Homo sapiens: one gene and its partners. The protein of the gene in region 4 binds, or shares a complex with, the protein of the main gene of each other region. Each region holds a gene or a part of one and is shown on either strand. Other genes may lie near its edges.

Region 1 (8,231 bases), on a different chromosome or scaffold from region 4:
AACCACCTGAGTAGCCCATGTAAATTTTCAGCAGCCCTGTTCCTGCTGGCCTGTGCTGATAATCACAACCCCTGAACTAATGTAAGACCAAACCAAGCTTCCTCATTGGTTTGGTCTTCCTCCTTGTCCTCTTTCAGTCCCCTGTTCTATCTACTGTAATATTTCTGGATTTGACCCTGCCTTGAGACCATCAGCTGCAAATCCTTGCTTGCTGTATCAGCAGTAAATGAGAAAAACAGACCTGCTGGGTATCTATCCAACCCATAAAGAGCAAGAGTGCCCTGAACAAAGCCAAGGATGGGCCCAGGGGGACATCCTGGCTAATGCTGACTCACCAACCTTCAGTGCCAGACTCCTCAATGCTCCCCTCCAGGCCTATCTCAGTTCCTCAGTCTTTCCTGCTGCAGGCCGCAGCTCCCCTGCCCACAACTCCACAACTCTCCTTGTAGAGGGCTACTTCCTCCTGCCCTGCTTAGGGAGGCCCAGCCTTTTCACCTTACTCTTCTTTCTCAAGGCTAGGTTGCCCAAGTGTCCTCAGGCAATTTGATCCAGTTCCCAACAGCAAGAGACAGAAGCTGTGGGCTTTGCCCCATCACCTCTATAAACTCCCAGACACCCTTCCTCCCTAAATACATAGGCTCAGTATTAAAGAGCTAAAAAGACAAAATGTTTGCCAAAGATAAAACTATGTATTTCTAAGGAAAGCTGGCTCCATAATGAGGCCCAAGTTAGCTTCCTATGTGTCTGTCCTCCCAGCTCCACTTCAGACAGATCTTCCTGCAGGACAGGGTAGTCTCTTCCCTATCAGGGGTTCTTCAAGAAGAAGGTTGGCTGATCACTTCTCAGCCTTCAGCTAAGATCAAGTGAACAACAAGGTTATTTTCTTGAAACCCAGACTTAAAGAAGAGGCCATGCTACCTACTTCAGAGCAGACAAACATCACCCCACTCCCAAAGTGCGAGTGGAGCATGGGTTAGGTTTGTCACATCAAGGTTTGTCTCTGCATTAGTGTAACCCAAGAGGCAGGGTTTCACTGTCTACCTTAGCACAGACATAGCAGCCTGCCCGTGACTGGCCACCTGGTCTAGGGGCATGGCTGAGACAGCTTGGCCCCATGGATAAAGTACATGGCCTAGCGTCAGAACACCTGGGCACTAGCACTTCTCAGCTTGGCCAAATCACTTAGCTTCTCTGAACTTCTTCCTCACCTTTCAATAGACATAACCCACACTAATATGACGGATGTCTGGCAAGAGTCAAATTAGATAACTGTGAAGGCCCTTTGTAAACTGTAACGTGTTGTATATTTTTTATTATGATAAAGAGACAGAGATGAGAGTCGGAGAGGGGCCTGCCCAAGAACTCAAAGAGGGACTGTGGGATGGTGGATGGTTATGGCCCTTGCTACATGAGGCCTCAAATCACCCAGCAGTGATTAAGCACCTTCTCTGGGTGTTAGGAACAGAAATGAGAGCCCCCCAAGGAGAAGGTAGAGATTCAGGAGAGCAGCAGGCCCAGCTCTCCCTTCCAAGTAGAAGCTTGTATCCTTTCTCATACGGCATTAATCCTTCTTGACTCATTCCCTGCAAGAGTCCATATTATGCTTTAAGGGACAATTTCCCACTAGGCTACAGCTCTCCCAGTAGGCAGGGTTATTGTTGTCTCTTTCTCAAAAAGGTGGAAGTGAAGTGAGAGGTATTAGGCACAACACATGCCTAACACAGGGCAAAGGAAATATGTGTTCATTGGGTGTATGGAGAATTGAGAACCAGAAGCCACCCTTGCTTCCCATACAAACGACATTTTCCTAGGCTTAAGCCCTTAATCCAAAATACGTTCACTGAAGAACGAACTACTTCCCAAGTACCAGTGATATAATCTATTTTTGTGACCATCTTCCCCATTAGACCGTGAGCTACCTGAAACCTTTCTACTCTCTCAGGTCTACTATATGTTCAAATGTAGAATCCGGGCTTAGAGACGATCAAAAAAGGAGAGTAGACAGCAACTTGAGACTTCATCCTTGAATGTCAGGCCAGGCAGGGCAGGGATTAGAGTGTGGGGAGAAGTGAGAATGCACTAAGAGGAAGAGGGAGAATTTAAAACTGTACAGGTCTCCCCAGCCTAACCCTTTCTCCAAAGGTATCAGATCTACAGCCAAATTCTCAGAATAGGCATGTCTCCAGCTAAAGGAACCCTCAGGCCCCAGGCAGACTGCACTGAGGCAAGCCAAACTCAGAACCAAATGAACTTCCCGCTCCATTTCTCTTTTCCCACAATCTAGCCAAAGCTAAATCCTCTTTGTTGCTTCCCAGACAATTTCCCACATGTCCCGATGTCCTCACTGTATCGATTAAATCCTTCATTGGCCAATTCAAAGGCCACCAACTTCCAGAGTCGTCCCCTGGCCCTAGACTAGCAGCGACCTTCCTTCTGCAACCCCAGGGACTAAGACGATACACGAATTCCTGATTCATCTCAGGACAGACTAACTCAGGGCCTCAGCTTACCCACCCCTAAAATGGATTCGCAAAGCCCACTAATACACAGAAGACACAGGAAGCTGGGGAAGGGAGTGTTTCCCGGGGACCTAGACTGAGGATCCTTGAATCTGAAAAGTTTTGAAGGTAGGAGCAAACGGAAGTGGTGGGAGCGAGCCGGACAGGCGGCTGCCTGCACACCCCGAGGCGGGGACTGTGTAGAAATCTGGGGCTTTAACAGGGGTAGGAGCCCGGCTTGGCGTCTCCTCTGTAATCTGTCCCCTCCAGGCCTCCGTATTCAGTGAGCCCTGCAGTCCGGCTGCCCGTCCTCCGCAGGTTTCTTTCTGGGCCCCATGCCCCAGTGTCTTAGCCCTCATTCCCGAGCCCCGCCTGCCGCGGCCGCACCTGGTCCGAGTCCTCGTTCTCGCTGCTGTAGCAGCACCCCATGGCCGGGGTCGGGCCGGGCGCTCAGGCCGCGCCGAGGAGGGACGGCGTCCGTGAGGAGCCCTTCCGGTCACATGACCCGCGGCGGCCTCCCGCAGGCAACCACCCGCCCCCACCCCCCGTACCCCCTGTCCCGGAGCCGCTTGGCCGCCTCAGTCAATACCCCGGCTTCCGGTCCCGCCCGCTAGCGCGTGATCGTTGTCAACCAATGGGAAGGCGTAACCGTACACGCAAGCACGTGATGCGGGGAAAGGGCGGGGCGGATCACATGACTTCATCTTTCCAGTCTCTAAACTGGCAGTAGTGGCCATCGTGAATTGTGTTATGCGTTCTCGTGGCCACTAGGCCACTTTTCTGGGCCATTGAGCGAACTCGTACCAAATGCCCTCGTATGCCCTTGTGATATACTCTTCTAAATGCCATGCGAGGGGCGACTGGGATCCAGGCCTGATGCTCCAGATCGTACGGTCTGGGTGCACACACACAGATGATCCAGATGACCAGTACCTAGTCGGGGAACACAGAGGGTGTATCGCCCAGCTGGGCTGGGGGTGAATACACAGAGGGTGTATTCTCCACCTGGGCTGGGGATCTGCGACTTACAGGAAGAAGGGACCTTATACTACCTTCACATGCTGACGCGCAGCGGAGATAAATCCTGGTAGAGGAGATAGAAGCCACCTCACTGACCTCTCTGCTTTCAGGCTTTTATCTTTAATTCTGCCTTTTTTAACAGCACCCATTGTAATCGAACGCACAAAGCTGACCATCAGTTCTCTTTTCCTAACCCCCGCTCCATGTCTTCCCTTGGGCCCTGAACACAGGTCCAAGTCCGTCCAAGATTGTATAGTGATCCATTTGTTGTTCATGAGCGTGTGATTGGGTGTTCACCAGCATGTATCAAATGTGCCACCCTCAAATCTTGTTTTGGCACATTACCCGTCTGACATAACAAGAGCCTGACACCTCTCCCACTGCATGTTCTGGGGTGAGGGGTGGAGGGGTCAGCAATGTGTTTCACTGGACATAGAGAAATAATGTAGTTTCCTGATTGATCTACTGGACTTTGTACATGCAGCCTGGTCTGCCTACTGTCTTTACTGTCTTCGAGACTCAGTACAATGTCCTCCTGATTACCTTCTCTGACTCCATTCTCTGGACATGCCCAGCTCCCTATGCTTAATCCTCATCCAGTGTTAATTCATGCATTTATTGAATCAACAAATATTTGCTGAGCGTCTACTATGTGCCACACATTGTTATATCTGGATATGCAGCAGTTCACAAAACAGCCAAAGTCCCTGTAGTCATGGAACATCCAATAGTGATCACACTATATTGTATTCTCTGTTCCTGGGTCAGTCTCACCTACCAAACTTGGGAGTTCCTGGAGCACAGTGACAGGTTCTGACTCTTCCCTGTAGCCCAAGGCATGGCCTTGCTTACAGAAAACTTGCATATCAATGAGCATGTTACAGTCACCCCATCACCTTGGCTCACCCCATGCCCCATCTTCTGATCCAAAGTATTGGAGAAGTCACCAGATCTCATACCTCTTATAACCCCTCAAATCAAGACCCTGAGGTTCTGTAAATCTTTTGAGGTTCCTGAAGGGTAGGAGGCAGCTCAAGCTCGTCCCTGGGGCTGGTAACTTGAACTGCAGGTCTCAGGTGACAGCAGCAGCCTCAGCATGAATAATTGAAAGCCATTCCAGCCTCCTACCTCAGGGTTATCCCCCGCAGCAGGCCCTGGACTCCCCGACCTGTCCTGTGCTCTGGTCCTCCAGCCCAGGTAAGCAGGGCCCTGGATTGTGGGTTCCCAAGCTCACCAGTTCAAGCCCACCGCATCACTCACCTATTCACACCCATCCATACACTCTTTCATTTTTACTCCCCGCCATCACCAGGGGCCTTGCAAGAAGGCCGGCAAGGAGGTCAGATCTGGATGAGGAGGAGAATGGTCCAGGACATGGGAGGAGAGGCCCATTCCCCATAGGTCCCTGGAGAGAAGAGCTGAGTAGAGGGAAAATGTGTGCTGTGTGTTATGTGTATGTACACATTTGTGAAGGGAATTCTGAGACAGCACAGGAGAAGAGGGGAATACAGCGGAGAGGAGATGGGGCTGGAGAATTATTAAAGAATCAAAGACTCCTCCCATCCTCAGGGAAGAGCAGGCAGAGGGAGAGTCCTGGGGTGGGAAAGAGGACATCTCACTCTAACACCCTATGGGGTATTTTGATTGCATTTTACTGAGGCAGGGCACAGTGATAGTGAAGGTGTTTTTGACTGCAAATCTATGCTCTTTTGCTACACAGCAGTGGTCAGAGGAGACCAGGCAGGCAGAGGGTAGGGGTGGGGGAAGATATCCCAGAGGTGAATTAGTGAAAGGGGTCCTGAAGAAGGGGTGACTTCAAGGATAAAGAGAAACAAGTCAGGGGAACAATGTGAAGATGGGACCAGGGGTTGGGACCGGGAAGAGGTGGTTTGGGGCTGGGTGCTGAAAGTAGACAGTATAGAGTCCTTGAAAGTACACAGGCTTGGAATCACACTAACCTGGATTCAAATCCCAGTTCTGCTCTGTGACTCTGGACAAAAGACTTAGCCTTTCTGAGCCGTGGTTTGTGAAATATAAGGATAATAATTGCTACTGGCAAAAGCTACACAAATAGGCAAATTGTGGGTATGGGATTCCCTCCCTACCTCCCTCCACCCCAGGGCCCAGGTAGGGACCATGTCCCCTGCCATTGCATTGGCCTTCCTGCCACTGGTGGTAACATTGCTGGTGCGGTACCGGCACTACTTCCGATTGCTGGTGCGCACGGTCTTGCTGCGAAGCCTCCGAGACTGCCTGTCAGGGCTGCGGATCGAGGAGCGGGCCTTCAGCTACGTGCTCACCCATGCCCTGCCCGGTGACCCTGGTCACATCCTCACCACCCTGGACCACTGGAGCAGCCGCTGCGAGTACTTGAGCCACATGGGGCCTGTCAAAGGTCAGTGTTCCCTAGCCTTCTGCTCCAAGAAGTACCCCCAAGACAGTGAAGGAATATTTGGGATCTGTTGCTGCTTAACTGGATGAATTGGGCAGGTTCTTGATCCTCTTTTAGGGCCTCTTTTTTTTCTCATCTGGAAATGAGGAGCTTGGACTAAGTCATTTATTCAGCAAACATTTATTGCCACCTCTTTTGTATTAGGAATGTGCTAGGTGCCAGGGAGAGGGGTAGAGGCCACAGAGATGAATGAGCCACAAATGCTGGCCTCAAAGGAACCATAATACACAGTGGAATAACCATCTCAGCAGATAACCCATAGCTTTGTAATTATCTGTCTCCACATCTTTCCTCTCCACCATGGAGGCTTCCACATACCATTTAGGGTAGCTGTCTGCCTGGATTTATCTCAATCCCAGCATAAGTGCTTTTAGGGTCTTATTTAAGAAATTCGGCTGTGTGGTGGCTGGTGCCTGTAATCCCAGCACTTTGAGAGGCCGAGGTGGGCAGATTGCTTGAGCTCAGGAGTTTGAGACCGGCTTGGGCAACATGGCAAAAACCCATCTCTACAAAAAATACAAAAATTACCCAGGCATGGTGGCACATGCCTGTGGTCCCAGCTACTTGGGAGGCTGAGGTGGGAGGATTGCTTGAGCCCAGGAGGCTGAGGCTGCAGTGAGCTGTGATTGTGCCACTGCACTCCAGCATGGGTGACAGAGCAAGAACCTGTCTCAAAAAAAAAAAAAAAAAGAAAAAGAAAAGAAAAGAAATTCACTGGCTGGGCATGGTGGCTCATGCCTGTAATCCCAGCACTTTGGGAGGCCAAAGCAGGAGGATCACTTGAGCCCAGGAGTTCGAGACTAGCCTGGGTAACAAAGCAAGACCCCCGTTTCTACAAAAAATTTAAAAATTAGCCGGGTGTGGTGGTGAGTAACTGTGGTTCCAGCTACTGGAAATGCTGAGGTGGGAGGATTGCCTGAGCCTGGGTGGTCAAGGCTGCAGTGAGCCGTGATCATGCTACTGCACTCCAGCCTGGGCAACACAGCAAGACTTGGTCTCAAAAATAAATAAATAAAAGTTCATCCAATTCCAAGATCAGAAATACATTTGATGAGCAATAAAAGGGGAATGAAACTACAAATTCTAACAGAGACCTTTCATAAATCTGAAAGATAGGGTGGTTGTTTCTGCCTGGGACTTCATGGAGAAAGAGCAACATTTGAACTGAATCTGGAAGTTCTGAGTTGGCCAGGCAGATGGCGATGGGGGTGGGAAGGGCAAAGCCAGCCACATATACACATGTGGCATGAAGGAATGAGACAGCTTGATGGATTCTGGGCACAGTTGTTTGGGATGGCTGTGATACAGGCCACAGGTGGGAAGTACTGAGAGATGAACCTGGAAAGGTAGGATAGGATCAGGTCCAAGGTCCTGAATGCCAGGCTGAGAATCCCAAGTTCAATCCCAAAGGCCTTCAGCTCACAGGAGCCAAGGAGTAATAAGGTCAGATTTGTTGGAAAGATTCCAGGGCTGGTGTGAAGACTACACTGTAGGAGACGGGGACCAGGAGGGCAGCTGGGGCTATGGTACAAGAGACAGATGAGACCCCGGCTGGTTGGGAGCTGCAGTGAGGCAGGTAGGCATTTGAGATATCTTTTATCAGGGGCCCTGCATCCATCTCCCATGTCTTCTGCAACAGCCATCTCCCCTCATAGGTCAGATCCTGATGCGGCTGGTGGAGGAGAAGGCCCCTGCTTGTGTGCTGGAATTGGGAACCTACTGTGGATACTCTACCCTGCTTATTGCCCGAGCCCTGCCCCCTGGGGGTCGCCTTCTTACTGTGGAGCGGGACCCACGCACGGCAGCAGTGGCTGAAAAACTCATCCGCCTGGCCGGCTTTGATGAGCACATGGTCAGCCTCCCATCTCCCCAACCCAGATTTTTGTCACCCCAGGCCTTGCCCCCAGACATCCCTTGTGAAGGACTCCCATCTAAGGAGAAGGAAGCACCTCCACTCTGGGGACTGTGATGCTGGATGGTGTGTGAGCTCCTGCCCTCCTGTCCCAAGTCATCTGCACATTATTTTCTGCCGGATGACGAAAGAAACAGCTAAGAGGAAGGTCTCTGGAACCCAGCAAATTTGGGTCCAGCTCTTACTCTGCCTCTTGTTAGCTACGTGACCTTGAGCAAAGCATGCATCCTCTGAACCTTAGCTTCTTCAGAATGGAAATCACAATACTGATCCTGACTTCTTAGGTTCTGAGGTCAGAGGAAATGTGAGAACACTCATGGGAAGCTAAGCCAGGACCTGGCATGAAGTA
Region 2 (8,486 bases), on a different chromosome or scaffold from region 4:
GTCTGTATTAGTCTGTATATATTATAGTAACTAAATCTCGGGTACAAAAGTACCTATAAATTCTAGGTACGAAAATTAATTACTAAGTGTACTTTACAATATATTTCTGTATATAAAGGCAACACAAAGTTAACTGTACCTGAAACCAAATCAGGTAATAGACATGCCACTATGGCAGAGCATTTGGATGTACTATTACTATACAAAACATTTTGACCAGATCCGATGCCGACGTTTGAGCCTTGAAGGTTTCTTGAAGGAACTCATTTAGTTTTAGATTTCCATACCTGAATTTCAGTCTTTCCATTAGTAAGCCTAGCAAATGCTTCCAAAAATTTACCCTTTTTCTCCCAAATGACTGATCTGCATGTTAAACATAACTGAGTTACACCGATTACCTCTTTCAGTTACCCTTCCAGCAAAAATTCAGAGCTTTAAACATTCCTGCATTAGGAGCAACAAGTCTTGGGTTTACTAGTTGTCACTAATTAACTGAATGCTTTACTTATTTACCTTTCCAAACTTATTTCCTCATGTGTAATTGCTACCATTTATTAAGTATTATGTCTCAGTTCTATGTAAGCATTTTATACATATTATATAACCTTAAAATATCGTGATTAGGCCGGGTGTAGTGGCTCATTCCTGTAATCCCGCACTTTGGGAGGCGGAGGTGGGTGGATCACCTGAGATAAGGAGTTCGAGACCAGCCTGGCCAACATAGTGAAACCCTGTATCTACTAAAAATACAAAAATTATCTGGGCGTGGTGGCAGGCGCCTGTAATCCCAGCTACTCAGGAGGCTGAGGCAGGAGAATTGCCTGAACCTGGGAAATGGAGGTTGCAGTGAGCCAAGATCGTGCCACTGCACTCTAGCCTGGGCGACAGAGCAAGATTTCGTCTCAAAAAAAAAAAAAAAAAAGTGATTAAGAGGCCTCAGGGCCAGACAAAAATCCTAGCTTAACGACTTACTAGCTGCATGACCTCAGGCAAGTTATTTAACCTCTGTGTCTCAGTTTCTTTTTTTATTTTTTGAGACAGAGTCTCGCTCTTGTCATCCAGGCTGGAGTGCAATGGTGCAATCTCGGCTTACTGCAACCTCTGCCTCCCAGGTTCAAGCGATTCTCCTGCCTCAGCCTCCCGAGTAGCTGGGATTACTAGCACCTGCTACCATGCCTGGCTAATTTTTTTTTGCATTTTTAGTAGAGATGTGGTTTCACCATGTTGGCCAGGCTAGTCTCGAACTCCTGACCTCAGGTGATCCACCCGCCTCCGCCTCCCAAAGTGCTGGGATCACAGGTGTGAGCCACCGCATCCGGCCTCTTTTTTTAAATTTTAAAAACATATATATATGTTTATTGTAAAAATAGAGATGGGGGGTCTCACTGTGTTGCACAGGCTGGTCTTGAACTCCTGGGCTCAAGTGATCTGCCCACCTTGGTCTCCCAAAGTGCTGGGATTACAGGCGTGAGACACTGCACCTGGTCCCTCAATTTCTTTTTCTACCTCACTGGGTTGTTATGAGGAATAAAAGAGTATATGTAAAGCACTTACAATGGTGCTTGGCACATAACAGCTCAATAAATATAATTCTATGATTATTACCATTATCAAATAACAACCCAGTGAAGAAAATGAGGGCCTAAAAGGTAGTTTTTTGGTCCACGTTCACACTACTAACAAATGAAAGAGCAAGGGATTGAGACCAGGTATGTCCAACACTGAAATCCCATTTTACTGCCTATTCACTTCTTGTTTAGTGTAGTTGAGCTTCAAAATTGTACACCACCCACCTTGCCGGGTTGTTGTGAAAATTAAAGATAATGTATTTAGAGCCTAGCAGTCTCAGCATATGGCATACATTCAATAAATGGTTAACAGCTGTTATTATCTGAAGTCCTTTCTAGACTCAATTTAAAATGATTCAAATATTATTTTTAGTAGAGACAACTATTTATTGTTATAGGACTGCAAGGAACATCTTCCTTCATAAATACCAACTGAAAAGTTTCAATTTTCTGATACTGTTATTTGGAGATAATCTCTACTCTCAAACTCAGAAAGACCTGGCAAGGTAACAGGAAATAAAAGCTAGAAAATAATAGCACGCTAGGCTCCAAGTCAACATCAGATGCTATGCAATTCATCAAATAGTTGGTATGAGAGATACTTACAACCCAGATTAAGTCCTTGTGAATCTGTGCACAGGACTCCAACAATGGAGGGATTCTTCATTCTAATTCCAGGAACACAAGAGAGTTGAAGTACATAATGGGAGAAAAAGGATTTAAATAAGTACAAACATACAGGTGTTCTATGTACCAGGCATTAAGTGCTTTAAATCAATATTTCTCAATCTTTTTTCATTGTCACACCCTAAGAAAAAAATTAAGTTCTAGGGCCGGGCGCGGTTGCTCACGCCTGTAATCCCAGCACTTTGGGAGGCCCAGGTGGGCGGATCACCTGAGGTCGGGAGTTCAAGACCAGCCTGACCAACATGGAGAAACCCCGTCTCTACTAAAAATACAAAATTAGCCAGGCGTGGTGGCGCATGACTGTAATCCCAGCTACTCGGGAGGCTGAGGCAAGAGAATCGCTTGAACCTGGGAGGCGGAGGTTGCAGTGAGCCGAGATCACGCCATTGCACTCCAGCCTGGAAGACGAGCGAAATTCCGTCTCAAAAAAAGAACACAAAAAATTTAAGTTCTAGTTAATTAATTGAAATAAACCAGTTTCTCTCTGATGAGAGAAAAAAATGTGCTAAGTACTGCTGAGTTCTGGAGGGCCACAAACACTGCGTGAAAAACATCTAGGATGTTTTCACTCTTGTTAAAAACGCATGTTTTAGTACTAACTCATTTAAAACAACTGTTGAAAAACTCAAGTTACCTCCTGGAGGGTAAGTGGAAGCTGAGGGACATCGGTGGGAGGCAGGTGTCTCTCTGTACCCTTTACACTTTTCCAGTTTTGAATTTTACATAGATACTGCTTGTTCGAAAAATTTAAAGAATGATTTTTATCTACTTAAGCACCAAGTAACTGATAGGTTACACACAGGAGATACGTGTTTGTTTACACTGCAGGGCTCGACACTGCACAACTGGCACAATCTTCCCAAAAGTCAACCCGTTTTCTAAAACTTCCGCAGAACCACCCTGACCGTAAAGACGATTTCAACAACGAGATAGGCAGTTTTGGCCCGTGGCCTGGGCCCGGGAGACTCGCTCAAGAGGGAATGTGCGGTGCCCGGCAGGATTTTAATTCCGGGTCACCCGCCCCGCCCTGCGGCCTTGGGTAGAGTTTAGCCCCCTCATCCCGTGTCCCGGGGGTCGCGCGACGTCCCCGAGACGCCCTGGCCGGTACTCGCAGCTCGCGCCTTTCGTTCCGCTCAAGTTCCTCCGCCGCGACCTCAGGACAGGCCGAAGAGGCGCGCACTACTCACGTGTCTTCCAAGTGCTGCTCCAAGGTCGCCTCCATCCCACCCACCGACCACTCCGGCTCAGAACCCAGCGGCACGGCACGTCCTTCTCCACCACAGGCCTCAGTCACTTGACGCGAGCGGGGCGTGGACCGTAACGGCGCCTCCAAAGGGACAAAATTGATCACGGTGCAACGTCCGCGTTCTTTACTGGAAAACATCACTGCGCTTCCGTCGCACAGAGCCTGACGAAGGCTTGGGCTCCCCGCGCGGTGACCGTCGAGGTGACCTGCACCTGGCTCCATGGCGGAACCGGCCGGCACGGATTATTCCCCTCTCGGGAGAGGTCTGCAGCCGGGCCTCAGTGCTTCAGTTCGTGGCCTGGCATTTTGTGTCAGTGTTTTTTAACCTTTGGACCCTAGTTCAACCGACTCCGAGACCTAGGGGACAGATCTTAAGTTTTACAATAACCCAGGGGTCAGACAGGGTCTGATCTAGCCTGTGGGGCAAGTACGGGGAAGACACGGGACCTCTTGGAGGGGGTCAGTAGGCTTGTAGGGGGAAAGACGCACACAGAGACTAAAGGACGAGATGGAGCAAGGTTCAACCCCCTAGCTGAGTGTTGGCAGTGTCGGGATTTTAACGAAGACATTGGTGCTTATTATGGTGAGGGGACTCAGGACAGTTTAGGGGAAGAGAGTGGCATTTGAGTCCTAACTCGTAAGGAAGACTGGGTAGGACTACTTGAAAATAACTTTTAAAAATTAATTATAAAGCTGGTAAAAATAGGAAAACATCTATGGCCCCACTGTCCAAAGACGACTTTTAACTTCTTGGAGAATATCCTTTCAGATAGTTGTCTTTGTAAATGTATACTTTTAATGTTTTTTCGTTTGCCTTTTTAAAATAAATTTTTTGGGGGACAGGGTCTTGCTCTGTTACCCAGGCTGTAGTGCAGTAGAACGATTATAGCTCATTGCAACCCGGACGTCCTGGGTTCAAGCTATCCTCACCTCTCAGCCTCTCGACTGGCTAGGACCACAGCCTCGAGCCATCATGTCTGGCTAATTTTTACGTTTTTTTGTAGAGATGGGGGTCTCGCTGTGTTGTCCAGGCTGGTCTTAAACTCCTTGCTTCAACAGATCCTCCCACTCCAGCCTCCCAAAATGTGATTACAGGCTGAGTCACCACGCCTAGCATGGTTTTTTTTGTTTTGTTTGTTTTGTAAGCAAAATTGACATACATACTGGAGGTACAATTCTGTAGCTGGCCTTCTTTACAGAGTTTAGAATAAATGTCTTTCCATGTCAAGTTTTCACTTACATCCTTTGTAGTAGTTGCAAAATATTCCATTTTATAGCTGTATCTTAATTGTGGATTAAGGTTGGAGTGCAGTGGCACTATCATGGCTTAGTCCAGCCTCAGCCTTCTAGGTTCAAGCGATCTTCCCACCTCAGCCTCCCAAGAAGCTGGGACTACAGGGACCCGCCACCCCACCTAGCTAATTAAAAAAAAAATTGTAGAGATGGAGTCTCAGTGTGTAGCCCAGTCTCAAGTGACCCTCCCTCGTTGGCTTCCCAAAGCGCTGAGATTGCAGGTGAGCCACTGTACTTGGACTTTTTTTTTTTTTTTTGCTTTTGTTTGTTTTTTGTTTTAGCTATTACAATGCTGGTTGAATATCCTCATAGCTAAATATCTGTGCAGTTTTAAAATTTCCTTATAAGTTACTAGAAATGGAATGACTGGGTTAAAGGACATGATCATTTTTTAAGACTCTTGATACATACTTACAAATTGCCTCCCGAAAAAGTGGTGCTAATTTACTCAAATTGGTAAGCCTCACCCCCTCTGTGGATCATTCCTTGCACTAAGTTTCTTCCAACTCTGTCACCTCCAGCTTTTTACTCACAGCCTACCTTCCAATCTGGGGCCCAGCTCCCAGATCGGAAGATACCAGACTTTGGTATTGAACCAAAGTCCAATACACTGCACTGGCATTCAGAGTCCCTTTTTATTCCGCAGCTGTCATAGTGAAGCTTGCAGCTTCCTTGAAATTCCAGTTTGTTTATTTCTTTATTTTTTTGAGACAGAGTCTTGCTCTATCGCCCAGGCTGGAGTGCAGTGGCGCCGTCTCAGCTCACTGCAACCTCTGCCTCCTGGTTCAAGCGATTCTTCTGCCTCAGCCTCCCGAGTAGCTGGGATTACAGGCATGCACCACCACACGTGGCTAATTTTTGTGCTTTTAGTAGAGATGGGGTTTCACCATGTTGGCCAGGCTGGTCTCAAACTCCTGACCTCAAGCGATCCGCCCACCTCAGCCTCCCAAAGTGCTGGGATTATAGGCATGAGCCATTGCACCCAGCCAAAATTCCAGTTTGAATGTTATAATTCAGGGGTCTTGGACTCCTGCTCTAGAGAAATTATTCATGTTAAGTTAGGGGTAACACAGTACAGGCCATATAAGTTTTAGAAAAAGCAGTTTAAAACTTAGCATTAGAAAACATAAGTACTGCCTGGTGAAATGGCACGTGCCTATAATCCCAGCTACTCAGGAGGCTGAGGCAGGAGGATCCCTTGAGCCCAGGAGTTCAAGTCCAGCCTGGGCAATATAGTCTAGTGGCCACATTAAAAAAAGTAAAACAGCCGGGCGCGGTGGCTCACGCCTGTAATCCCAGCACTTTGGGAGGCCGAGGCGGGTGGATCACGAGGTCAGGAGATTGAGACCATCCTGGCTAACACGGTGAAACCCTGTCTCCACTAAAAATACAAAAAATTCTCCGGGTGTGGTGGTGGGCGCCTGTGGTCCCAGCTACTCAGGAGGCTGAGGCAGGAGAATGGTGTGAGCCTGGGAGGCGGAGCTTGCAGTGAGCCGAGATCGCGCCACTGCACTCCAGCCTGGGCGACAGAGCGAGACTCTGTCTCAAAAAAAAAAAAAAAAAAAAAAAAAAAGTAAAACAGGGCAGGGTGCAGTGGCTCACGCCTGTAATCCTAGCACTTTGGGAGGCCGAGATGGGTGGATCAGTTGAGGTCAGGAGTTTGAGACCAGCCTGGCCAACATGGCGAAACCCCATCTCTACTAAAAATACAAAAATTAGCTGGGTGTGATGGTGCGTGCCTGTAGTCCCAGCTACTCAGGAGGCTGAGGCAGGAGGATCGTTTGAACTCGGGAGCTGGAGGTTGCAGTGAGCCGAGATTGAGCCACAGCACTCCAGGCTGTGCTACAGTGTGAGACTGTCTCAAAAAAAAGTAAAACAGATGAAACTAATTTTAATAACATTTTATTTATTCAAACAATATATTCAAAATATTATTTCAACTTGTGATTGATAAAATACTAATGAGATATTTTATATTTTTTCTCCAGTACTGTCTTCAAAATCCAGGGTATATTTTTCAGTTAGCAGCACATTTCAATTCAGACCAGCCGCATTTCAAGTGCTCAGCAGCCACCTGTGGCTAGTGGCCACAGTATTGGCCAGTGTAGCCCAAGGATATCTCAAATTATCTCAAAGCTAGATCAGTGATTAAAGGATTCTCAGGCCAGGCATGGTAGTTTTCAGGCCTGGTATGGTGGTTTACGCCTGTAATCCCCGCACTTTGGGAGGCCTAGGTGGGCGGATGGCTTGAGCCCAGGAGTTTGAGACCAGCCTAGCCAACGTGGGGAGACCCTGTCTCTACCAAAGCACAAAAATTAGCTGGGCATGGTGATGCGCACCTGTGGTCTCAAGTACTTTGTGTGAGGTGGGAGGATCACTTGAGCCCGGGAGGTTGAGGCTGCAGTGAGCTGAGATTGCACAACTGCACTCCAGCCTGGGTGACAGAATGAGACCCTGTCTCAAAAAAAAAAAAGGATTCTCCGAAAGACTGGCGATTGCTTTTTAAGCTATAAGGAAGGCCTTTGAAGGGAAATCAAGTAGGAAGAGGATGATAGCTGGCTCACATGTCCTTGCCACATGGGAGGTGAGAGAGCAGGCTACTCCTTACCACCCCCGCTTTCTCTGCCCTGCTGCTGTCTTGCCCCTGTGCAAGTAGGCAATGGGAGAGGAATAGTATATATAAATTGGGCAAGTGCTAGGGGCTGGAGTGATGGTTGGGGAAAGTATCTGACCCTTGTTTTCTACTTTCTTTAGCTTGTGGGGTATTTAACAATTCTTTGTTCTTAGTTTTGAGTGCTGGCAACCATTTCTGGGGTGACAGGAAAAGTTCCATGACATCCGTATTAGAGCATTTGTTTCATTATATTGTAATTTTTTATGTTTACTTTTGAAAAAGTTCATTCTTTTCTCTTTTTAATTCTTATTCTTTTTTTTTTCTTTTCTTTTTGAGGCAGGGTTTTACTCTATCACCCAGGCTGGAGTGCAGTGGCACAATCTTGGCTCACTGCAACCTCTGCCTCCTGAGCTCGTGATTCATCCTCCTGAGTAGCTGGGACTACAGGTGTACACTACCATGTGTAGCTAAATTTTTTGTATTTTTTGTAGAGATGGGGTTTTGCCATGTTGCCAGGCTGGTCTCGAACTCCTGCAATTTGCTCTCCTTGGCCTCACGAAATGCTGGGATTACAGGCATAAGCTACAGCACCCAGCCCTTACGTTTACTTTTCATTGACAGGAAGAGTGTCTTCATCTCTGCATCCCTAGTGCAACAGAGCATGACAAAAATTCAACAAATATTTATTGAAGAGTCTTGATGTCTTTTGGGAAAGGAACTCTATGGTTACCTTTACTCTAAGGTAAAGAAATTTAGGTCCTGAACTTTAACCACCTTCTCCTCTTCTTTCTTCCCTCTTTCATAAATGAGCTCTTGGAAAATTAAAATGCCAGGAGGGTCCAGCAGAGAATACCCAAGCCCACATGTCCTGATGGGAAGTGGGGGATAAGTAGAGAGGGAAACACAGACCCTGTAGGCCATCTCACTGCTGCTGGCCCAGGGGACCCTAACTCCTTTTGTTGACTCATCAGAAGTAGAATCCTCCTGAGGGTCTGTTTAAGAAGCACAGCTCTGGTAGAAAGGGTAGCTTTCCTATGGGTACGGAGGGCTCTGCTACCCCAGGGCTATCCACACTGGC
Region 3 (7,473 bases), on a different chromosome or scaffold from region 4:
AAAATTAGCCGGGCATGCCTCTAGTCCAAGTTACTTGGGGGACTAAGTTGGGAGGTCACTTCAGCCTGGGAGGTCAAGGCTGCAAGTTCCCATCTTTCCTTTTTTTTTTTTTTTTTTTTTTTTGAGACCAAGTTTCACTCTTGTCACCCAGGCTGGAGTGCAATGGCGTGATCTCAGCTCACTGCAACCTCTGCCTCCCAGGTTTAAGTGATTCTCCTGCCTCAGCCTCCTGAGTAGCTGGGATTACAGGTGTCTGCCACCACACCTGGCTAATTTTTGTATTTTAGTAGAGACAGAGTTTCACCATGTTGGCCAGGCTGGTCTCGAACTCCCGACCTCAGGTGATCCACCTACCTCAGCCTCCCTAAGTGCTAGGATTACAGGCATGAGCCACTGCATCCAGCCAAGTCCCCATCTTTCTTACTCTTGGTTATAAGGGGGTGCTCTGGCAGCATCTACATCACACCAACTTACTTTTCAGGCCATAGGCCTGGCAGTTTCCTTCTCAAGCAGGAGAGGGAAACCAGAGGCAACGCTGACAAGCCACTTCCCAGCACCCAGAGCCAACATGGGCTACACTGTTTTGTTTTTTTTTGGTTTGTTTTTTTTTTTGCGGAAGGGTCTCATTCTGTTGCCCAGGCTGGAGTGCAGTGCAGCAATCTCGGATCACTGCCACCTCCGCCTCCCAGGTTCAAGCAATTCTCCTGCCTCAGCTTCCCGAGTAGCTGGAATTATGGCCGTGCGCCACCAGGACCAGCCAACTTTTGTATTTTTAGTAGAGATGGGGTTTCGCCATGTTAGCCAGGCTGGTCTTGAACTCCTGACCTCAGGTGATTCTCCCGCCTCCTCGGCCTCCCAAAGTGCTGGGATTACAGGCATAAGCCACCATGTCTGGCCAAAACATGGGCTACTCTTATTCGTTTTTCCTTTTAATGAAAAGCACTCGCTGGGTGCAGTGGCTTAAGCCTGTAATCCCAGCACTTTGGGAGGCCAAGGAGGGCAGATCACCTAAGGTCAGGAGTTTGTGACCAGCCAGGCTAACATGGTGAAACCCTGTCTCTACTAAAAATAGAAAAATTGCCGGGTGTGGTGGCTCATGCTTGTAATCCCAGCACTTTGGGAGGCCGAGGCAGGCGGACCACGAGGTCAGGAGTTCGAGACCAGCCTGGCCAACATATTGAAACCCCATCTCTACTAAAAATACAAAAATTAGGCTGGGTGCGGTGGCTCACGCCTGTAATCCCAGCACTTTGGGAGGCCGAGGTGGGCAGATCACGAGGTCAGGAGATTGAGACCATCCTGGCTAACACAGTGAAACCCCGTCTCTACTAAAAAATACAAAAAATTAGCTGGGCATGGTGGCGGGGGCCTGTAGCCCCAGCTACTGGGGAGGCCGAGGGAGGAGAATGGCGTGAACCCAGGAGGCACAGCTTGCAGTGAGCTGATCGCACCACTGCACTCCAGCCTGGGCCACAGAGCAAGACTCCATTTCAAAAAAAAAAAAAAAAAAAAAGCCAGGCATGGTGGTGGTGCATGCCTGTAATCCCAGCTACTGGGGAATCTGAGGCAGGAGAATTGCTTGAACCTGGGAGACGGAGGTTGCAGTGAGCTGAGATCGCACCATTGCACTCCAGCCTGGGCAATAAGAGTAAAACTCCATTTCAAAAAATACAAAATACGAAAATTAGCCAGGCCTGGTGGCACGTGCCTGTAGTGCCAGCTACTCAGGAGGCTGAGGCAGGAGAATCGTTTGAGCCTGGAAGCGGAGGTGGCAGTGAGCCGAGATCGCATCACTGCACTCCAGCCTGGGCGACAGAATGAGATTCTGTCTCCAAAAAAGAAAGAAAGAAAGAAAGAAAGCAAAAGCACTTGTCAGACGAGAGCTCTGACTCTGACTCCATGGATCATGTGCACCAGAGGCCCAGGCAGCCCCTGAAAGAGAGGGAGGTGCCCTACAGAGCACTTAGCTTTGCGGTCACCGGAGCCTGCCCTCACCAGCCAGGTGACACCAAGTGTTACTAGACCTCTCTGAATACCACCCAAAAGCTGAGAAACAGAGGCCTCTCAGAATTCGCATTACACATGGAATCAGAATTCTGGGCAGCGTGAGGTCATTCTTCACTCACTGTTCAATTCCAATCTCTACCAGGTGTTTGCTGAAGAAAACAAACTGGTTTGAGTGTGTCTCACGAGTCTGTTTCCAACAAGCTTTCCAGAACCCACATAGGAAGCCGAAATGCCCTGGCTGACAGTCTCTTCATCAACATATCCAAAGACAGTATTCAAATTCCCTGATGTGGTAGAGTGTCTGTTCATGTCCCCCTCCCACAATGGCTGAGTCCCAGACCTGGACAGTGACCTCACCACCACCCGTGGTGCGCCCTGGCCCTATTTCAACCCTACTTCCTATGGTGTTCTCATAGCACCGTGGAGAATTAAAGAGGCCACTAAGTAAGGGCACTCTAAATAAACAAAGCACTATAACGGATCTTAACCAGCAGTGGACACACAGCTTCTATAACTAGTCTCCCACTGGGGAGCCTCATTAAGTTAGCAGCTGGGATCCCAACAAGCCCAGGGTGAAAAGTTCTGCAGGGGATGACTGCCAGTTCAGATCCACTCTCACTGTGGCTCTATTTCCACCGTTTCCCTGGATTTCCATTCACAGAGCTCCCTGACATAGGACACTAGAAGGGCAAACGCAGTGTCACCTGCCACTATTACTCAATTACTTGATGACCACGGTGATAATCTGGCACTAAACTGGCTGTGGCCAAAGGCTAGAGAGCCAGAACCTACTTCCAGCAAGCTCCTCCTTGCCCTGTGTCCCCACTTGAAGAGACTGCTAGTGACCACACCTTGGACTTCAATCCACAAGCCAATCCATTCTTTCCAGGAGACAAGGACGCGACTGACAGTACTCTCAACTGGAGAGAAGCGCGGTCTTCCACCCTCCCTGGAGGACACGGTGCTACCCTATTAGCGCATCAGAGGACCCTCCTGAACGCCAAACTGGGAGAAGAGGATGACACACACCCTCTCCTCCAAACAGAGCGAAGACAAAACCTGGGAGAAGGGAAGGCAAACAGTCCCGTTTCATGGCAACATCAAATGAGATCACAGTCCTCATCCCCATAGACTTGGTTAATGGGCGTGCCCCCAACCTATCTTCAAATCTCAGGGTCTCGGCGACGCCCTGGACTCTGGCCCTAAACCCTCCCCCATTACTCGTCCACCTGGGACCAACGAAAACTCGGACATGCCCCTCCGCCAACCCCTCAGACCCCCGCCTACCTGCTCCCCAAATCGAGGCCCGCGGGACACCTGGACTCGGCAGCCGGGGTCCCGCTCTGGGTCCCAGCCCCGCCCCTGACTGCGCTGGGTAGGTGGTCGCTGCGGGACCCGGACCGGCGGAATCACACCCAGAGCCCCCAAGCCCACGGCAGGGATGTCACCCGGGGTGGCGAGGCTCTCAAGCCCGGGTTCAGGCTCTCAGGGGAGCTGGCAGAACCAGGAGCGACCACACTCACTCGCGGTCCCGCAGCCCCGCCGACACCCAGGCGCGTGACTCCCTGAGCCGTACCACCACCCAACACTGCGGTGGGGGTGCGGGAGCCGTCCGAGCGCGTCCTGCACCGCGAGGAGAGCCGGGCCTCCCTAGCTCTCGCAAGCCCAGGAACACAGTCCGAGTCCTACAACTCCGAGGTCTGACTGGGAAGCAGGGGCCGCTGCCCGACAATTACCCTTTTCCACCGCCCCTATTCCGGTGCCCCCCTCTGGGAAGTTCCGAATGGTTCAGACCGCACCAGCTGGGGATGCTGGGGGAAACCATTTCATTAAGCGCGGGAGTATGCTGAAACTTAAAAATCATTTTAAAAAGAGATTTGAGGGTAAATATAGCCAACCTAAGGCTTCCTGTCCACATAAAAGAGAAAAATAAAGAAAAAACGTTATAAGAGGTTGGCAGGCTTTTTTTTTTTGCTTCACCAATGGTTTTTATTAAATTGCTGATGGAACCCGTCCTCTCCCTACATTGAGAGTATGGAAGGTGCGGGAGACGGCCGTCACGTGACGCGGAGAAGGCGCGGCGCCCGTGGGAGGTTGGTTGCAGAACTCGGAACCGCTGTGCGCGCGCATGTGTGGGATTCGGTCTTCCTCCCTCAGTGGGTCTTTTTTAAAAATGTGAAAATCAGTTTTTGAATAATATTCTTTTTTTGAGACAGAGTTTCGCTTTCGCTCTTGTTGCCCAGGCTGGAGTCCAGTGGCGCGACCTCGCCTTACTGCAACCTCCGCTTCCCGGGTTCAAGCGATTCTCCTGCCTCAGCCTCCCGAGTAGCTGGGGACTACAGGCGTCCGCCACCACGCCTGGCTAATTTTTTGTATTTTTGCAGAGACGGGTTTTCACCCTTTTGGCCAGGCTGGTCTTGAACTCCTAACCTCAGGTGATCCACCAGCCTCGGCCTCCCAAAGTGCTGGGATTACAGGCGTGAGCCACCGCGCCCGGCCTGAATAATATTTTTTAAAACTAGAGCGCCCATTACTAAATTTAGCTACTTAGAAGTTAATTGTAAAGCCATTAGTTTGTGATGTAGTGTGGGTCCTTCCAGTGAAGACCGGAGAGAGATGGGAATCAGAGCCTGACCCGCCTGTGCGCGCTGCCCCCTGAGGTGTGGCTGCCCCCTGAGGTGTGGCCGCCCCGGAGCCTTCCGCCGCGGCCGAGGCTATGGTTGCCGCAGAGTCTCCAGAATGTGCTCACCAGGAATAGAATAGAAAAGTGGGTGGTTGTGTTTTTGAAATCAGAAGTCACTTATTTTTTTCTCTTTAAATTTCCATGTTCTGGTCGGGCGCGGTGGCTCACGCCTATAATATCCCAACACTTTGGGAGGCCGAGGTGGGCGGATTACGAGGTAAAGAGATGGAGACCATCCTGGCCAACAGGTGAAACCCCCTCTCTACTAAGAATACAAAAAAAATTAGCTGGGCGTGGTGGCACACGCCTGTAGTCCCAGCTACTCTGGTGGCTGAGGCAGGAGAATTGCTTAAACCCGGGAGGCAGAGGTTGCAGTGAGCTGAGATCGTGCCACTGCACTCCAGCCTGGCACAGAGCGAGACTCCATCTAAAAAAAAAAAAAAAAATCCATGGTCTGTTGAAAACGGGACACGAGAAAAGAACGAAAGTGCAGCTTGTGTTTTCTGCCGTCTTATAGTGGCTTGGTAAAGATTAAGGAATATGGGGTGGCGTTACGAGGTTAGGCATTGCCTTTATGTGTTTAATTATTCTTATCAAGCGAATTCCTCTTGCTGTTGGACAGCGCAAACTTAATTTCTGAGGAGGTAGTAAGTTACAGGGTGATTTTATTTTATTTTATTTTAGAGACGGAGTCTTGCTATGTCTCCCAGGCTGGAGTGCAGTGGCGCGATCTCGGCTCACTGCTACCTCCACCTCCCGGGTTCAAGTTCTTGAAACTAATGTTTGTTAATGAGATTTTTAAGTCAAGAACAAGGTTTTTTTCACCTTGTAACTTTAATTCCAGGAATTACCTTTTTCAGTTTGTTAGTGGAGTTCACCACCTTGCTCAGATTATCCTTATTTCCATGGTGATAGGCTAATGGCGGAAGGTTATTCAACTAGTGTATTTTCAGTAAAAGTCAATGTGCATTTACCACACCTGGGCTCAATTTAGGCCATTAACATCTTTCCCAACACCACTGGCTTCAGCCACCTACCTCTTTTGGAGGTACTTTCTTAAATAAACCTATAAATCTTTAAAAAAAAAATTAACAACTGCCAAATCTTTGCCTCAGTGAATTGTACCAAAGGTTATTTAAATTGGGCTCTCATGGGGTATAAAAACTTTCAAGGTCATGCAACAAAAGGGACATCTTAGAAGTCGGAAAATGTGCCCATTCTCATGGGAAAGATAATTGAAACTCAGCAGTAATGTTCAGAAAGCACAGATACCAATAATGTTCAACAATTCACAACCAAATGAAATGCAATGCTAATCTCAAAGCTTCTATCCCATAATGGAAATTGTATGAAATGATTCCAGAAGCTCTGGATATGTTACTGCCTGGCATGCATACAATCCAGAATGTGTTTTTTCCACCACTGAAACAGGCTCAATCAGAATTAAGATTTTTTTCCACCACTGAAATAGGCTCAATCAGAATTAAGGTTTTTTGATGCTTTTCTGCCTTCTTACTACTGCTAAACCAAGAGGCTTCATTATAGCTGAGTATCCAAACTGATCAATCACTTCCAAGGCATCAGTTGCCAGGACCATAGAGCCAAGTGGCAGGGAAAAGTCACATCTTATTCAGAAATTTGTTTTAGAGTTTTTTATATGTACCCTTAGCCACAGGGGCTCTGATGTAGCTGTAGGATACAGCTGGGCTTTATCTTTCAGTCAAACCACATGTCAATGACTCTTAGTTTCCAGTTTCAGGAAGAAGGGGTGTATTTCATTTGTAAGCATTTCAATTTAATATTTTTAATCACATCTCATATTTTCAAGTTACTATAATTGATTCCCTGTTATAAAAATAATGATCTAAGTTTTTGTTTCTTCCAGCAACTGAGAAAACATTCCGTTTTTAGATGTTTTGAACAGTTTAGGAGTCTGGCCAGCTGCTGAAAGGCAGCAAGCAATGAGTAACATTTCAGAAGGTGAGATAAATGCACAATTTCTTTTTTTTTTTTTTTTGAGACGGAGTCTCACTCTGTCGCTAGGTTGGAGTACAGTGGCGTGATCTTCGCTCACTGCAACCTCCCCCTCCCGGGTTCAAGCACTTCTCCTGCCTCAGCCTCCCGAGTAACTGGGACTACAGGCGCATGCCACCAGGCTCAGCTAATTTTTGTATTTTTAGTAGAGACGGGTTTCACCATGTTGGTCAGGCTGGTCTCGAACTGCTGACCTTGTGATCTGCCCTCCCAAAGTGCTGGGATAACAGGCGTGAGCCACTGCACCCAGCCCATGCACAATTTCTTTCTTTCTCTTTTTTTTTTTTTTTTTCTTTTTTGAGACGGAGTCTTGCTCTGTTGCCCAGGCTGGAGTGCAGTGGCGCCATGTCCGCTCACTGAAAGCTCTGCCCCCAGGGTTCATGCCATTCTCCTGCCTCAGTCTCCTGAGTAGCTGGGACTACAGGCGTCTGCCACCAGGCCCAGCTAATTTTTTGTATCTTTAGTAGAGACGGGGTTTCACTGTGTTAGCCAGGATGCTCTCGATCTGCCTGCCTCGGCCTCCCAAAGTGCTGGGATTACAGGCGTGAGCCACTGCGCCCAGCCTAGCCCATGCACAGTTTCTAAGTTCAGGTTTTAGGTAATTAGACAATCAACTCTGCACATAAGGCATCCAGTCAGTTGCGAGGTATGAGTTATTAGTGGTTCAATAAAGGCCATTAGGATTAATTTAATATTTCTTACCATAGCAATTTCTGTAAGCTTTTAAAAATTAACCTCTCTCCACTAAT
Region 4 (7,505 bases):
GAAAACAAATTACTGTCTCAATTCTATAAATGACTGAAAAAATACACTCCCCATAATATTTTTCAAACTCATCTCCAGCTCAAGAATCTTAGATAAGCACATAGAAATCGATATGGTAAGAGACCTTAGAGTGAAGACAAGGGAAGGGGGTATTTCCTGGCCATCTCTTCCAATGGGGTAACCATAAAAGACAATACAGAAAGGTTCCTAAAGCTTCTTTATCGGAAGTCTCTCCTATTCTAAAGTCCTGCTGTGGCTTACAATTACTGAGCTTTGTATATTGGTTACTCTAGGAACTGCCTCTTAGGGACTGAGCTACAGTTAGTTGCCAATGGCTAACTACACCCAAGCCTGATTTAACAATTTAGGCTGACTAGAACAAAACAAAACACCCAAAAAAGGATTCCAGCAATGAAAGCATGGTATACTAGAATGAAAACAAAATGTTAGTCTACTCAAAAACCTGGGTTATATAAAAAGATGCTGAATATGATCTTCGGGAAATGCAAATTAAAACCACAAGATACCACTAGAATGGCTATAATCAAAAGAATAAAAAAACGATTAAGACAGTAAATTTTGGCCAGGCATGGTGGCTCATGCCTGTAATTACAGCACTTTGGGAGGCCAAGGTGGGAGGATACTTAGGAGCCTACTCAGGAGGCTGAGGTGAGAGGATTACTAGAGCCCAGGAGGTCAAGGCTGCAATGAGCCTTGATTGTATCATGGCACTCTAGCCTGAGCAACAAGTGAGACTCCATCTAAAAAAAAAAAAAAAAAAAAAAAAAGTAAATTTCATATTTTTTTTACAATAAAAATTTTTAATTAAAAAAGAACAAAAATAACAATATCAATATTGAAGAGATTGTGAAGAACCTGTAACCTTCATGCATTGCTACTGAGAATACAAAATGGTACAACTATTTTGGAAAAGTCTGACAATTTTTTTTTAAAGTTAAACACAACATTTAGCACATGACTCTGCAACCCCACTCCTAGATTTCTATCCAAGAGAAAAGAAAATATATGTCCACATAAAGATTTATACACAAACATTAACAGCAGCATTATTCATAATAGCCCAAATCTGGGGAAAAAATATGTCCTCCAACTAGTGGCTGAATAAACAAATCATGGTATAGCCATACAATGGAATACCATTCAGTGATAAAATTGAAGGAACTGGCTGGGTGTGGTGGCTCATCCCTGTAAGCCCAGAACTTTGGGAGGCCAAGGTGAGAGGATCCCTTGAGCCCAGGAGGTTGACAGTGTATTAAGCGTGGTCACGCCACTGTACTACAGCCTGTTGACAGAGTGAGAAAAAAAGGAACTAATAAATGCAACAAACAAGACAGACACAAGACTATGACAGAAAGTATCAGTGACTGCCACGGGTGAGGAGGAGTTAGGCTACAACAGAGCATGAGGGAACTTTTTGGGTGATGGAAGTGTTCTAAAACTTCATGGGGGTGGTGGGTACACAACTGTATACGATGTATGCTTAAAATGTATTTATACTTTATTGTGTATAAATTATAGCTCAATGAAATAGTTTTTAAAAAACCCTGGGTTGATTAGATCTGTAAGTTATTAGCTATGTGACATTAACCAGAATGGTTTTTTTTCCTTCAGATATGCCTATTCTGTTTCATCAGTTTTCATTTCTCACATGCACAAGTTTTATTTTTAAAGTGAGAGATTCCATAATGTACTGCAGTTATTGGGCTTACAGATAATTCTTACTTCCACTGGCAAAAGTATATAGTTATCTGCACTGCTACTTGCTCTATCTCGTAAGATTGCTGTGAAACATCAAATAAGATAACTGATGAGAAAGTTCTTTGGTAACTGTAAAATAGTATTACGCAACTATGTAGTAGACTTTACATTTTTGAAAACCAGACGTGAAAATGTTTTTTCATATGAGTGACTTGAGAGCCTTGTAAACCTACGTACCCAAAGTCAATCTTTGTCCAGAAATAGAAAGCAGTTGTCTATTCAAATGCCACCTTTTAAATATCCTATCGGAACCTGTTTCCTATTGTCGCTTGAGTTACTAGATGGCTCAATGTAGTATTATCTAACCTGCACTTTCATTTTTCAAAGGAAAAACACTAAAGAAATGTTTAAAGAGAGACAGATGAGCATGACACATTTATTTTTCAGGGGAAAAGACAGATACGTAGAAAAACCTCTTCAATTCCATATGCATTTACTGAATTTTTCCTGATGAGACCTGCATTAGCAAGAGAGAGTGAATAATTTTAAGAATAGCAAAATTTCTTAAACCAGTGTGGCAACTTCGCCTGTTCCAAAATTTGACAGATTCTCTTTTTTTATTTTTATTTTATTTTTTTGTTTCTACTATTGTTGTACAACTGGGCTCTTTGCTATCCTACCAAGTTTAAAACGTGTGGCATTTGACATTTAGCCTAGTTATATTTGCAAGTTTCCACACTGCAATACGTATAAAGGCTGTTTGGACATAATCTCCTCAGGTGCAGTTTAACGACTAAATTTTACCTTGAATTCAGGTTTATATCAAATCTTACAATTCTGAAAAGTTACTCTGCCAGCAACAGGTACTACAATGAAAAATTAACAAAGCCTGTAACACTACAAAATGCTCTACTAACATTTTCAATTTTTAAGACTCCTTTTCAGTAACAATTCGAGGAGGAAGAATCTACAGCCAATTCCAAGGCCAGATTTCATTCAATTTGGTCTTCCTTCGGCAGTAACCCTAAACTCAAGTTTCACATTTCTCCTTCGATAACATTAAGGTCGCTCGGTCCGGTTACTGCACACCTCCAATTTTAGCGTCCAAGAAACCTGAAAGAACGGCACGTTGCCTACTCGCTCCTCCAGCCTTCTCTCAACTCAGAAGCTTGGCCAAACGTGCCGCTCTCTCCACAACGCCAACGGAGCTGGAACGCAGCGCCCGGAGGACAACTGGTCACGGGGAGGAGGGGAGAACTTCGCGGCCCGGAGTACGGCGGCTGAGGTCCAATCCAGCCCGCGCCCAACTCTACTCGGTGCCAGGAAGGCGTGTGGACCCAAAGTCTCAGGCCGCGGTGCTAGGTCCGGAGGAGCAGAGTCGCGCGTGGCTGGGGGCAGGTCGTAAACAAACCGACGGGAGGAGGGGGAAGGGGCAACGGCGAGGCGGGTGGGGTAAAATAAAAGGTAGGACCTCGCTCCAACCCTTCGGCGCTAGCCCGCAGCCGGCTCCACCCCACCGAGGACCAGATGCTGCTCTCGGCGCGGCGCTTCCGCTCGGGTCGGAACACCGAAGGCCCCAACACCCCTGGAGCCCGGAGCCCACAAGGCCATCGGCTCCGCGACCCCCGCCCCACAGCGCCCTACCTGAACCCGCAATCTGGGTCCCGGGCGTCGCGGCCGGGCGCGCCCAGCCCGGTCCTCTTGCTGAAGAGCTTCTGGAACAGCGTAGGGGCCATGCTAGCCACGGCCAGGCAGGGGTCGCTCCGCTGGGCGCTTGCTAGGCCCCTGCTCCTACAGCCGCCCCGCCACCCCCATGGGCGCCTCAGTCATATGACAGAAATTAGTCACTTCAAACGGCCACGGCGCGCGGGGCGGGGCGCGAGGCAAGGCCGGCACTCATTGGCTGGAGGGGGGCCGCATCACGTGGCGGCGCGCGGAGCAAGGGGCAAGGTGGGGGCGTGGGGCGGAGCTGCCTCCCATAGGCTCACTGGCGGGTCCCGTCACGTGGCAGGGGCGGGGCGTGAGCCGAGAGGACAGGACTGGAAGGTGGCTAGGGATGTGTAGCGGGAGAAGGGTCAGTCTCGATCTTCCCCTGTGAAGCTGTCAGCGACCATCAGAGGGTACGCCGGGGTGGCGCGGGGACGATGCCAGGAGCCTTGGAGTGCAGAAGGCTTCGACTCCCCGCACCCACAGAGTTGCGTAGGGAACCACGGGCAACCGACTCTTCCTTGTCAGCCCCTCCCTAGCTTCTGCGGCTTCACACCTCCATTCCGCGCCGGGCAGAGTCTGGCGGCTCCTGGAGCACGGAAGGCCCACAAGCGTACCCGTGGGGCCGCGGCCAAGGCTGGACTTTGAGCCCAGGACCCCAGGACCGCCCTTAGAAGGCTGCGCCGGCCCGCGAGAGGTCTGGGATCTGGACAGCGCGGGGGCTGGCTCACAGGGACTGGTGAAGGAAACTGCCGGGACCCCTGCCACAGCCATGGCTCCCCGCAAAGACGACCTCGAGCAGGCACTGCGGGCAGTTTGTACTAGCGCCTAGAACCCTGACACCGGGAATTAGTCTCTTGGAAGAGCTAGCGATTGGAGGCTCAGGAGTTAGGCTGTTTCCTTGTTAACCAACAAAATCAGGTGAAACCAACGAAGTCAGGAAGCCTAAAGACATATATGTACAGATATCTAACCCTTTACGCTAATTATTTAGATTTTTAATAAATCTATCTTAATGTTTAGGTATGAAGACGGGAGGAACTGTGGAATTTTAGTCAAGTTACAGGGAAGAAACGCTTTCTAAAAAAAGAAAAACATTGCTCACATGTGACCTCACAGTCTTATTTAACCCATGGAACCAAAATATATCAGAGTTTGTATCAAACTAATCTTATAAATTTTCAGCAACCCCATCCATTCACTCACTCCCCCTCCAGGATGAGGAAGCTCGTACAATGGGATGTAATCCTCAGAGAAATTTAGGAAATAACTTGTATATGGTTGGAAGGCTGGATAAAAATACTTTGGGCAGGCGTGGTAGCTCACGTCTGTAATCGCAACACTGCAAGGCCGAGGCAGGCAGATCGCTTTAGCTCTGTAGTTCGAAACCAGCTTGGGCAACAGTAAGACCCTGTCTCTACAAAAAAAAAAAAAAAAAAAAAATTTTAATTAGCCAGGTGTGGCCGGGCGCTGTGGCTCACGCCTGTTATCCCAGCACTTTGGGAGGCCGAGGCGAGTGGATCACCTGAGGTCACGAGTTCAAGACCAGCCTGACCAGCATGGTGAAACCCCGTCTCCAAAAAATTAGCCGGCGTGGTGGCGGCGAATGCCTGTAATCCCAACTACCTGGGAGGCTGGGACAGGAGAATTGCTTGAACCCAGGAGGCAGAGGTTGCAGTGAGCCGAGATTGTGCCATTGCACTCCAGCCCGGGCAACAAGAGCGAGACACCGTCTCAAAAACAAACAAAAATTAGCCAGGTGTGGTCACGGCGCACACCTGTGGTCCCACTCGGGTGGCTGAGGTGGGAGGGTAGCTTGAGTGTGGGAAGTCAACGCTGCAGTGAGTGCCACTTGTACTTCAGCCTGGGCAACAGAGGGGGGCCCTATCTCAAAAAACAAATACTTTTTGAGAATTTCATTTAATTAGGTATACAAATTAAATTTTATTTTCTTTAAGTGGCTACCAACTCCCACTGATTTGCAGCTAGAGTTTATGCTCTAAATAAGGGTCTGAAGATATTTAGAAAAGAAAAAGTAATAGGCAGAATTTATATCTCTTTGAGAATTTGTCAACAACCAAAATACTGAGTTTCAATGTTCCAAGACTTTTTTAAAGCACTATTTATTGATGATTAAGATAGTAACATATTCTTTCCACAATCATTTATGTTCTAGGCAGTGGGGATCCAAAGTAAAAAAGAGCTAACTTTCTAGGTGAGGAGACAGTAAATAAGTATTTAAAGTTATTGCACTATTTATTGATGATTAAGATATTAACATATTCTTTCCACAATCATTTACGTTCTAGGCAGTGGGGATCCAAAGTACAAAAGAGCTAACTTTCTAGGTGAGGAGACAGTAAATAAGTATATAAAGTTATTTCAGATAGTAACTAATGTTGTGGAGTTAGTAAGAAATAAGCAATGAAATGAGGGTGTCAGCAAAGTCTGAGGAGGTAACATTTGAGGTGCTTAGGTTGAAAATCATTCAGTTGCTCTGTGTATTACCCAAGGTCCAGAAACTACTGGGCAATACAGGATCAAAACAGCAGTACTATTTCACCTAGACATTTCAGATAATCCTCTGGCATCAAATGCTGAAAGATTTCTAACAGGGTAAAATGAGCTGTGTATATTTTTCTCACAAAACATTTGAATGTAGAATGAAAAATGAAGTTTTTGTAAACAAAAAAATAAAGTCAATGCAATTTTTAAAAAGTAAACAGAAGTGTAGATCCTATCAGTCAATTAATGGGGCAATCATTTGGGAAGTTTTGTTTTTACACTAGTTAAGTTACACTAAATGAGTACAAGTGGAAACAGGCCAAAGTCTGTCTATACGGGACCAAAGACACTAAGGACTAATGGCTGTCCATGACTGGCACAGAAAAGAGTAGTTCCAGGTCCCCTCAGAAGGAACTTTCCAAATACAATAACCTTGTGTGCTTTCGTCTTGGGAAAAAATTACTTCATGGGTAATTATAGATATTAATAGTAAGGGAAAAGAATATAACTGCTTGCATAAGAGACACTTTCAGTATTCTCTAATCATGTAATAGCTTTATTTCTGTAGTCTCATTTAGTCTTGAAAGGTACAGAGAAAAACTAGATTTACTTCCTATTATTGATCACATTTCTCCTACATTGCAGTGTAATACTAAAGTCACAGAATCAGAGAGCGCTGAAATGATACAAGTTTGTAATAAAAGAGGACAAAACTATACATAATTATTCAGATTAAAATTTAAATATTTCAATTTTAGTATCAGTGAATATTATCTTTTATTTTTCCTTTTACTTAGTACTACATCCTATCACAGAGAAGCTGAGGTGTCTTACAGGCAGCCTTTGTAAGTTTAAGGAGTCAGCAAAGAGGAAATGTGAGAAAGAAAATAATTACCTACTCATTCATGCTACGTTATATCAATGTGGAACTACTGGGTTACAAAGATTAGACATAAGGCCTACTACACTCTCACTCAAGGGTGGAAGATTTAGTCTCCTCAAAACTCCAACAGTCTATAGATTTCTGTCCACCTGCTTCAAAGATTCCCCTCCTGATAGCATAAAAGACAGGCACTCTTTGCTATAGGCATTTCCTGGTTACTACATATAGGAAAAGGTGGCAATAAAACTAAAATCTTCCTCAACCATCATGCTAATAAGTATAGTCTCAATTATGCTGAATTATCATGAAACAAATTATAATTTCATTGATGACATCTCAGAACAAGACATTCAAAATCAAGATGATCAAGTAGACCTGCCCGAAAAACATTAAATGGGCTCAAGTTACCCCACTTTTAAAAACTCCTAAACCAACTGACCATTTATTGCTATATAATAAGGAAATGGCAGTATTCTGAAGCACCAGAAAACATAAACAGTGATTTATTCAACAAACATTTCTTGAGTCCCTCCAACATCTCAGACTCTACTGTAGGCACTGGGAATATGGTACTGAACAAGAGAGTCCTTATTCTTAGAAACTTAGTTTTTTGTGGGAAGAGACAAAATAAACAAGATGTTTGCAAGGTGTGCTAGGAGCCAGGAAAGAAAGCATGGATAGCAAGCAACTG

The links.
Region 1: FNIP1 (region 4) and LAMTOR1 share a complex: the UniProt entries of both Homo sapiens proteins name them as parts of the lysosomal folliculin complex.
Region 2: FNIP1 (region 4) and LAMTOR5 share a complex: the UniProt entries of both Homo sapiens proteins name them as parts of the lysosomal folliculin complex.
Region 3: FNIP1 (region 4) and FLCN share a complex: the UniProt entries of both Homo sapiens proteins name them as parts of the lysosomal folliculin complex.

What each region holds. Positions count from the first base shown.
Region 1 is NC_000011.10:72,100,298-72,108,528, forward strand, and holds the start of LAMTOR1 (ragulator complex protein LAMTOR1), read right to left. Parts: upstream 3,001-8,231; 5' UTR 2,928-3,000; coding exon 2,886-2,927; intron 1-2,885. Other genes in the region: LRTOMT (transmembrane O-methyltransferase), read left to right, coding at 4,667-4,715, 5,639-5,913, 7,626-7,822; TOMT (transmembrane O-methyltransferase), read left to right, coding at 5,655-5,913, 7,626-7,822; ANAPC15 (anaphase-promoting complex subunit 15), read right to left, coding at 7,054-7,308. UniProt on the Homo sapiens protein: Key component of the Ragulator complex, a multiprotein complex involved in amino acid sensing and activation of mTORC1, a signaling complex promoting cell growth in response to growth factors, energy levels, and amino acids.
Region 2 is NC_000001.11:110,404,144-110,412,629, forward strand, and holds the start of LAMTOR5 (ragulator complex protein LAMTOR5), read right to left. Parts: upstream 3,478-8,486; coding exon 3,443-3,477; intron 2,237-3,442; coding exon 2,175-2,236; intron 1-2,174. UniProt on the Homo sapiens protein: As part of the Ragulator complex it is involved in amino acid sensing and activation of mTORC1, a signaling complex promoting cell growth in response to growth factors, energy levels, and amino acids.
Region 3 is NC_000017.11:17,233,618-17,241,090, forward strand, and holds the start of FLCN (folliculin), read right to left. Parts: upstream 3,552-7,473; 5' UTR 3,295-3,551; intron 3,067-3,294; exon of another isoform or gene 2,859-3,066; intron 1-2,858. UniProt on the Homo sapiens protein: Multi-functional protein, involved in both the cellular response to amino acid availability and in the regulation of glycolysis.
Region 4 is NC_000005.10:131,793,467-131,800,971, forward strand, and holds the start of FNIP1 (folliculin-interacting protein 1), read right to left. Parts: upstream 3,552-7,505; 5' UTR 3,456-3,551; coding exon 3,364-3,455; intron 1-3,363. UniProt on the Homo sapiens protein: Binding partner of the GTPase-activating protein FLCN: involved in the cellular response to amino acid availability by regulating the non-canonical mTORC1 signaling cascade controlling the MiT/TFE factors TFEB and TFE3.